Regions from separate parts of the Homo sapiens genome. Here region 1 is linked to region 2. The links come from fine-mapping of genetic effects on gene expression. A gene starts in region 2. The other region holds a variant in brackets. All regions are shown on one strand. Distances are between the middles of the regions.

Region 1 (4,386 bases), 25 kb before region 2:
TGCACTGTGATGTGAGAGACAGCTTGTTATAATTTCTGTTCTTTTACATTTGCTGAGGAGAGCTTTACTTCCAAGTATGTGGTCAATTTTGGAATAGGTGTGGTGTGGTGCTGAAAAAAATGTATATTCTGTTGATTTGGGGTGGAGAGTTCTGTAGATGTGTATTAGGTCCACTTGGTGCAGAGCTGAGTTCAATTTCTGGGTATCCTTGTTAACTTTCTGTCTCATTGATCTGTCTAATGTTGACAGTGGGGTGTTAAAGTCTCCCATTATTATTGTGTGGGAGCCTAGGTCTCTTTGTAGGTCACTCGGACTTGCTTTATGAATCTGGGTGCTCCTGTATTGGGTGCATATATATTTAGGATAGTTAGCTCTTCTTGTTGAATTGATCCCTTTACCATTATGTAATGGCCTTCTTTGTCTCTTTTGATCTTTGTTGGTTTAAAGCCTGTTTTATCACAGACTAGGATTGCAACCCCTTCCTTTTTTTGTTTTCCATTTGCTTGGTAGATCTTCCTCCATCCTTTTATTTTGAGCCTATGTGTGTCTCTGCACGTGAGATGGGTTTCCTGAATACAGCACACTGATGGGTCTTGACTCTTTATCTAATTTGCCAGTCTGTGTCTTTTAATTGGGGCATTTAGTCCATTTACATTTAAAGTTAATATTGTTATGTGTGAATTTGATCCTGTCATTATGATGTTAGCTGGTTATTTTGCTCGTTAGTTGATGCAGTTTCTTCCTAGTCTCGATAGTCGTTACATTTTGGCATGATTTTGCAGCGGCTGGTACCAGTTGTTCCTTTCCATGTTTAGTGCTTCCTTCAGGAGCTCTTTTAGGGCAGGCCTGGTGGTGACAAAATCTCTCAGCATTTGCTTGTCTGTAAAGTATTTTATTTCTCCTTCACTTATGAAGCTTAGTTTGGCTGGATATGAAATTCTGGGTTGAAAATTCCTTTCTTTAAGTATGTTGAATATTGGCCCCCACTCTCTTCTGGCTTGTAGAGTTTCTGCCGAGAGATCCACTGTTAGTCTGATGGGCTTCCCTTTGTGGGTAACCTGACCTTTCTCTCTGCCTGCCCTTGAAATTTTTTCCTTCATTTCAACTTTGGTGAATCTGACAATTATGTGTCTTGGAGTTGCTCTTCTCGAGGAGTATCTTTGTGGCGTTCTCTGTATTTCCTGAATCTGAATGTTGACCTGCCTTGCTAGATTGGGGAAGTTCTCCTGGATAATATCCTGCAGTGTTTTCCAACTTGGTTCCATTCTCCCCATCACTTTCAGATACACCAATCAGACGTAGATTTGGTCTTTTCACATAGTCCCATATTTCTTGGAGACTTTGTTTGTTTCTTTTTATTCTTTTTTTCTCTCAACTTCCCTTCTCGCTTCATTTCATTCATTCCATCTTCCATCACTGATACCCTTTCTTCCAGTTGATCACATCGGCTCCTGAGGCTTCTGCATTCTTCCCATAGATCTCGAGCCTTGGCTTTCAGCTCCATCAGCTCCTTTAAGCACTTCTCTGTATTGGTTATTCTAGTTATACATTCGTCTAAACTTTTTTCAAAGTTTTCAACTTCTTTGCCTTTGGTTTGAGTTTCCTCCTATAGCTCAGAGTAGTTTGATCATCTGAAGCCTTCTTCTCTCAACTCGTCAAAGTCATTCTCCATCCAGCTTTGTTCCGTTGCTGGTGAGGAGCTGCATTCCTTTGGAGGAGGAGAGGCGCTCTGCTTTTTAGAGTTTCCAGTTTTTCTGCTCTGTTTTTTCCCCATTTTTGTGGTTTTATCTAGTTTTGGTCTTTGATGATGGTGATGTACAGATGGGTTTTTGGTGTGGATGTCCTTTCTGTTTGTTAGTTTTCCTTCTAACAGACAGGACCCTCAGCTGCAGGTCTGTTGGAGTTTGCTAGAGGTCCACTTCAGACCCTGTTTGCCTGGGTATCAGCAGCGGTC[G/A]CTGCAGAACAGCGGATTTTCATGAACCGCGAATGCTGATGTCTGATTGTTCCTCTGGAAGTTTTGTCTCAGAGGAGTACCCGGCCTTGTGAGGTGTCAGTCTGCCCCTACTGGGGGGTGCCTCCCAGTTAGGCTGCTCAGGGATCAGGGGTCAGGGACCCGCTTGAGGAGGCAGTCTGCCCGTTCTCAGATCTCCAGCTGTGTGCTAGGAGAACCACTGCTCTCTTCAAAGATGTCAGACAGGGACATTTAAGTCTGCAGAAATTACTGCTGTCTTTTTGTTTGTCTGTGCCCTGCCCCCAGAGGTGGAGCCTACACAGGCAGGCAGGCCTCCTTGAGCTGTGGTGGGCTCCACCCAGTTGGAGCTTCCCAGCTGCTTTGTTTACCTAAGCAAGCCTGGGCAATGGCGGGCGCCCCTCCCCCAGCCTCGCTGCCGCCTTGCAGTTTGATCTCAGACTGCTGTGCTAGCAATCAGCGAGACACCGTGTGCGTAGGACCCTCCAAGCCATGTGTGGGATATAATCTCCTGGTGTGCCGTTTTTTAAGCCCATCAGATAAGCGCAGTATTCGGGTGGGAGTGACCTGATTTTCCAGGTGCTGTCTGTCACCCCTTTCTTTGACTAGGAAAGGGAACTCCCTGACCCCTTGCGCTTCCCGAGTGAGGCAATGCCTTGTCCTGCTTCAGCTCGTGCACGGTGCGCTGCACCCACTGTCCTGAGCCCACTGTCTGGCACTCCCTAGTGTGAATAAGCCGGTACCTCAGATGGAAATGCAGAAATCACCCGTCTTCTGCGTCACTCACGCTGGGAGCTGTAGACTGGAGCTGTTCCTATTCGGCCATCTTGGCTGCCCTCACTGTCGTTTTTCAATAGAATAAACTTTTCAGAAAGAAAGGAACTTACTAAACTAAAATCAAATTAATCAAAATAATTAAAAATTATTTTTAAAACAAATCAAAATAATTTTACTCAAATTAATCAAAATAAAACTAAAATCAAAATAATAATTTGATTTTTATGAAACTGCTTGCAAATATTTGTATAGGTAAAATTTCTAGTAATTACCATATCTGCACTGGGTTTGTTATTTTATTAGAAAGGAGTTTTCAGCATACTCTGACCAAGCTGTGTATAGATTACAAATTAGTATTTGTTTACTTTCCAACTCTTTTATTCTTATTTCAATACTCCTTATCATATTTTACATTTCAGATTTATGGATTTTTATATGAGTATCCTGTGCTAATTTAGGGTGATGCCAAAAAACAATAAGCATCTGTTTACAGAACATTTTAAATGTAAATTTTAAAGTGGCTTAATTAAAGATGCTCTGGAAATTACCTATTCATCAGTTAAATATTTATTGAACACTTTGTTAAATATTTGAATAATATAAAAGTAAATGGTTGCCAACGAATCCTTTATAGGTTTGTTGGAGATTATGGTTTGTTGGAGGAAAAACTAAAAGCAAGTCAATCTAGAAGGTAAAATTTTTTAATTGAGAAAAGTACAAAGTGCTCTGGGAACCTAAGGCCCACAGTGGTTAATTCTGCCTTGGAGAGCTAAGGCAAGACTTGGGGATACTTGAATAGGGTCTTGAAGAATGACTGGAAAAGATATTTTAGTCAAGAGATTGAAAGTGTATGGCAGGTACTGCAGCATAAAAAGGCACAAGGGAGAAGACAGATAGTTCTGACAGGCATTTGGAGGCAACAGGCATGTACTGGCAAGGTTTGATTTTGAAAGTACTCTATCATGTTTCCAAGTTTGGAAATTATTTTATAATAAATGGGAATACACATTAGAGGATTTAAGTAGAGAAATAAGGAGAAGGGTCATTGAGAGCCAACAGTATCTCATTTTACCAATAGGACCTCACTGAATCCTGATAAACTTTCAGGTAGTTTTGACTTTCTAGCTTACAAATAAGGAAACTGAGACTCGGCGAGGTTCCTTAACCTTCCCAGAATAACAGAACGAGTAAGTGGCAGAACAGGCATTTCAATCTAATTGTTTGACTTCAAAGTTCCAAAGGCCATTAGCTTTCCAAAGACCAGGCACTTTACCATTCAGCACACTGCCTCCAGAAGAAGTGGATATGTTATTGGTGGGAAAAGTTCTCCTCTGTCTTGGCTCTCAGGCAACCCAACTTTCTGACACACCCTTCAAAAGGATATTACCCCAGTGCATTTTGTGTGCAAGGGGATGGGAATTTACCTAACTTGAGAATGTTGTGCCCTTCCTTATCAACAATGGCCTCACGGGGCCTGCCGTCAGGCTTTTCATCCCCTTCCAGCAGGTCTGGCGAGCAGTTCACAGGCTACATGGACAAACTTAATTAAATTCAAGTGAGTGTTTTTACCAAGACCTGACAGGCGCAGTTGTGTGCAGCTGAATAATTGAGTTGTGCAGATTTTTTTTTCTTTGCCTTCT
Region 2 (4,386 bases):
TGAAGCTGAATCCTCATGAGAATCCAACCTATCTAACTTGAAGTTCATTTTGCTTTAATAGTTGGGCTTTGTAATGTCATTTACCCATGTGTGTTCCACAGAGGATAAAGCATGAGAAAAAAGGATTCTATGGTCATGTAAGTAAGGAGACCAAATTGCACTACATCTCCCCCTTGAAGACTCACAATTTTTTTTTTTTTTTTTTTTTCAGACGGAGTCTCGCTTTATCGCCCAGGCTGGAGTACAGTGACACAATCTCGTCTCACTGCAACCTCCGCCTCCTGGGGTCAAGCGATTCTTCTGCCTCAGCCTCTGGAGTAGCTGGGACTACAAATGTGTTTGTTTAAATAGGTACCCTGAAGTCTGAAATAAGGAGAGCCATTTTGTTTCATTTATCTAAGTATTTCATGAGCTCAGTTGGCTGTCTGAGAATTTTCCTTTTCCTGGTAAAACATTTAATATTCCAGGGAATACTTTGGGAAACTCTGCCTTAGAATATATTAGGAGAACCCTATTAATTAGAACTCATTTAGAATTAAAAAAAAACCCTATTGCATGCTCTTAAACTGATCTTTGTCAAAGTGAGAGTCATGACTTGCTGGGTTGTGAAATCAATTGAGTGCTCATCTGCAATTGGGGTTGCAGGGAAAGAATGGCAAGAAAAATATCAGGGTTGTTGCATGCAGTACAGGTAAGTACTGAATCATGAAATTTTTACTGGGTCGCTATGCAATATGCATTTCTCTCTGTGGTGATGGCCAAAAATGTCTGAAGCCGCTGCTTTCCTGAAAGTCACATGAATTGCTTGCTATGCCGGGAGTTAGGTGATAACTAATGTCTGAATGTTGTAAAATTAACACAAAAGGGCCTACTGTAATAACATGGTTAAATACATTATTTGTTATTACCTAAAATCAGATGATTTTAGATCTCAAATATCTCATAGAGGAGAAACCAAAATAGAGGTTTATTCTGACTTGTCAAGGTAAGACAGCTGTTAGCTGGGTCTAGAACCTAGATCTCCTAATGTGTATCTCTAGTGTTCTTTTACTTGTCAGTGTAAATTGACAGATTTTTCATTTATGGAATGCTTAGGGTTACTTCTTTTTAATGAATAGACAAACTCGGTGTAAAATGTAGCAAATCACTCCTGGATAGCTAGTTAATGACAAGTTACAAAAATGCTACAGGCTTTAATTGAAGGAAAAAAGTAATTTAGAGATACTTCAGTGCTGGGGTCTAATTCTAATTCCAATTAATAACTAATTGACCTAATATCCTGTTTTACTAGGTGGGGCCATTTAGTTACCTAGTTTCTCATTTGTATATGTAAATGTCCTCGATATATGATTTTGAGAAGACTTAGCAGATAAAACATCAGTGAACACCAAATCTTTCCATGCTTAAGTTAAAGGCACAACCATCACGTTACCTCTCCAGGAATAAACAATGAATCGAAGTTATAGGAAACCCTCCAAACTCACATTGCTTTTAAAAAAGAACAAGAACTATGACTTATCTTGCATCTCATAACAAGATAAACACTAGCTCGTTTTATTGTGGGCAGGCCTCTTCAAGACTGTCCAGTTGAAGTCTTGAAGTTCGTATCTAAATTTGTGTCTACTCACTCCTGGCTCGTGGACCGGTCAGTGGAGGTTGGAGCTATTTCCTTTTCCTCCTGTCTGCTTTCTGGAAAGCACCCACAGGTGTCTACGCCTGGGAGGTGGGCCTGGGCTAGGATTCCAGCAAACTCTCAGGTTGGTGTCATTTCCCCTCAGGAAGCGCCAGGCCACAGCGGGCAGAAATCATTTGATAACTTAATCTGGGTGTGAGGAAGAGTCGCTGAGGCCTGTGTACTCTAGTGATAAACGGAAGCATCCGGGTGAGTCAAGGAAAGGACGTGGTATCTTTTAAAACTAATATAAACGAATAAAGCCTAAACAAGAGCTTACAAAGAAGGACACCCCCTGCCAAAACGTGGGAGGTGACTGGTGCCTGGAAGGGAGATCACCGCGTGGTTAAGATCTGGAGGTTCCAGGGCTTCTCTTCGGGGAGAATTCTCTGGCTGGGAGAACAGTGGAGGTTGGAGGAGGTGAATTTCCTACAGCCCAGGACCAGCCCTCGGACCCTCCCCCTTCCTATAATTAACTCAACGCGCGTCCCGCCAGTCGGGACCGGTGGCGCCCCTGGACCCTCCCCTCCTCTCGCCCTAGGCGGAGAAGGAGAGGCTCCAGGGTGGGAGGTCGAGCCCGGGCCACACCAGCCCCCGAGCGGTCTCCAATCCTGACACGGTGCGGGGGGCGCGGGTTCGGGCCCCGCATGACGTGGGCGCCACGGCGGGAGGGGCAGTCCGGGGAGCTCCGGACGCCTTATTAGCGCCCCGCGGGTCGCCAGCAGCCAGCAGACTGCCGCGCTGCGAGCAACAGGAGCCGGCGAGCGGCCCACTCCTCCCACCTCCTCCGCCTGCCTTCTCCTCCTCCCCTTCGCTCCTCCCGCCCCCACCTCTGCGTGTGCGGCGGAGTCGCCCTCTCCCTGCCTCTTTCTCCCGCTCCCGCTCGCTCGTCTCTCTCGCTAATACTTCCCCCTGCTGTGCTCCGGGGAACCCAAGCATTCTCCGCGCTAACCTTAGGGACCAATGGTGCTCGAAAAGCCTCGAAAAAGCTGCTTTGGGCAGAGATAGTTGGAAAGCCCCTCGTCCCTTCCCCCTCTCCCAGGCTTAGCCTGTGCCCGCTTACAGCACCTTCTCGCTCCTGCACACTCTGTGTTGGGAGGACGGGGTGAGAAGGTGAAGTGGAAAAAACTGCAGAGCAGAGGGGGCCAGTCTCAGAGCTCAAATTTCATTTTCATTGAAGCAAAGCACAGAAGATCATTTTTTTCTATTTCGCATTTTTTCCCTTTTCCTTTTTTTCTTAAAGAAACTTATTTTGGGCGGGGGGGGTGGGTTTGCTCTGGGCATTTGCTTTGCCCAGTAGTTGGAAAGTGAACTCGACTCGTGATGGTTCTCCTGTCACTTTGGTTGATAGCAGCCGCTCTGGTAGAGGTTAGGACTTCAGCTGATGGACAAGTAAGTGGAAAATAATAACAATAAAAAAAAACTCAAACCCAACCTTTTCCCGAAAAGTTCCTCCCCTCTCTACCCTCCTCTCTTTCCTCCTTCTCCTCCCACCCTTCCCTGTTATCTTTTGCGTTCAGAAACGGTGTTTTGAGGGCTGGGCGCAGCGTGCGGGCTTTTGGGGGTAGAGGGTTGAGTTGCACGGGAGGTTACGACTCCCACTCCGGGAGCCCAGTCTTGTCACACCTAGGGCTTCACCAGTCTGCGACATTCGTAACAATTCCTAGTGACAAACCGCAGCCAGTTCCCATCCTCGCCGGGCCATCTGGGCTTCCCCTTTCTGGAGGGCGGTCTGGGCGCTTGAATGAAGTTCTGGACGCTGGGTCCGGGATCCCAGCGCTCTGGCTGCTGCCGCCAGAGTCGGGTTCCTGGAGCTTTCTCTCCTCCGAACTGACTCACGGTTTTTTCGGGCAGCCGGAGGCGGGGGTTTCAGGAAGTCCTTGGGCCGGACAGGGAGAGATCCAGTAGACACGTGTCCTGGGAGTACCACGGCCGGGCTAGGATTTGACAGTTGGGGAGGGGGGCTGGAGACGTTTCCTGCCCTCCGTTTTCCTGGGCAGAGGCTGCAGGCGCCGGCCGCCTTCTCCCCTCCCCCTCTGCACAACTCCTCCTCTTTTTAAAGCTAAGTTGAGTGCAGCTCTGTTTCTTTTCGGCCCTGCCCCCAACCCTTTGGAGGCTCAAGGTGAAGCCCGATGCTCTCAGAAGAGTCCTTGAGAAGGCTCCGCCAGGGGAGCTGTTTGTAGTAAATCATATCAGCACTGGGCCGATGGGACTTTGGGTACAGAATTTCTCTGTTAGTTTTTGTAGCTTCTCCGGTCGGCCTGGTCTGAACGACCATAGGGTAAAAAGTAGAGAATTGTCTAGTTGATTCCTGACCTTAAATCTGATTAATCAGGCCCCCTGTTAGGTGTATTTTGGCCTGTTAAATTCATACTTTCTTTTCTAATCCAGACCCAGTACGACATTTCAGAAGAGAGCATTGAGAGTCTGTATGTATTTTTGCTGGCTTCATAAGTGTTAAATTAAAATGAAAAGGGGCAAACAACTCCCTTCCCCAAATTGTTATGGAATTGGCTCATGGAACCTTCTACAAACCAAGGTGCAGGCTTTAGGCACCAATCCCAGTCTCTAGCATCTCCTGATTAGTTAGCTCTTGGAAACCATTAATGGTAGAAATAAAACTCACAAGGTGATAAGATGAAACCCAGTAACTTTCTTTTTCTTGCTTTCCCCCTCCTTTCCAGGCTGGTAATGAAGAAATGGTGCAAATAGGT

Which allele goes with the higher level. Alleles are on the strand shown, and positions count from the first base shown. SD is a standard deviation of normalised expression in the study named.
For the expression in sun-exposed skin of the gene that starts at base 2,537 in region 2, allele A in region 1 goes with a higher level than allele G (large effect, 0.87 SD a copy in GTEx).

What was found. PIP is the estimated chance that this variant, and not a neighbour inherited with it, causes the effect. A credible set is the group of variants that fine-mapping cannot tell apart.
Region 1: its variant is the best candidate, but not a certain one, in a credible set for the expression of ADAMTS3 in sun-exposed skin (GTEx, PIP 0.71).

Annotation. Positions count from the first base shown.
Region 1 is chr4:72,592,136-72,596,521 of GRCh38, reverse strand. No RefSeq gene overlaps it. Among named protein-coding and RNA genes, the nearest start is that of ADAMTS3, 25 kb to the right of the region's middle. The variant G/A (reference allele first, on the strand shown) is at 1,955.
Region 2 is chr4:72,567,372-72,571,757 of GRCh38, reverse strand. It overlaps ADAMTS3 (ADAM metallopeptidase with thrombospondin type 1 motif 3), which reads left to right and starts at 2,537. Exons shown (of 22, transcript NM_014243.3): 1 at 2,537-3,064; 2 at 4,357-4,384. The coding sequence starts at 2,996.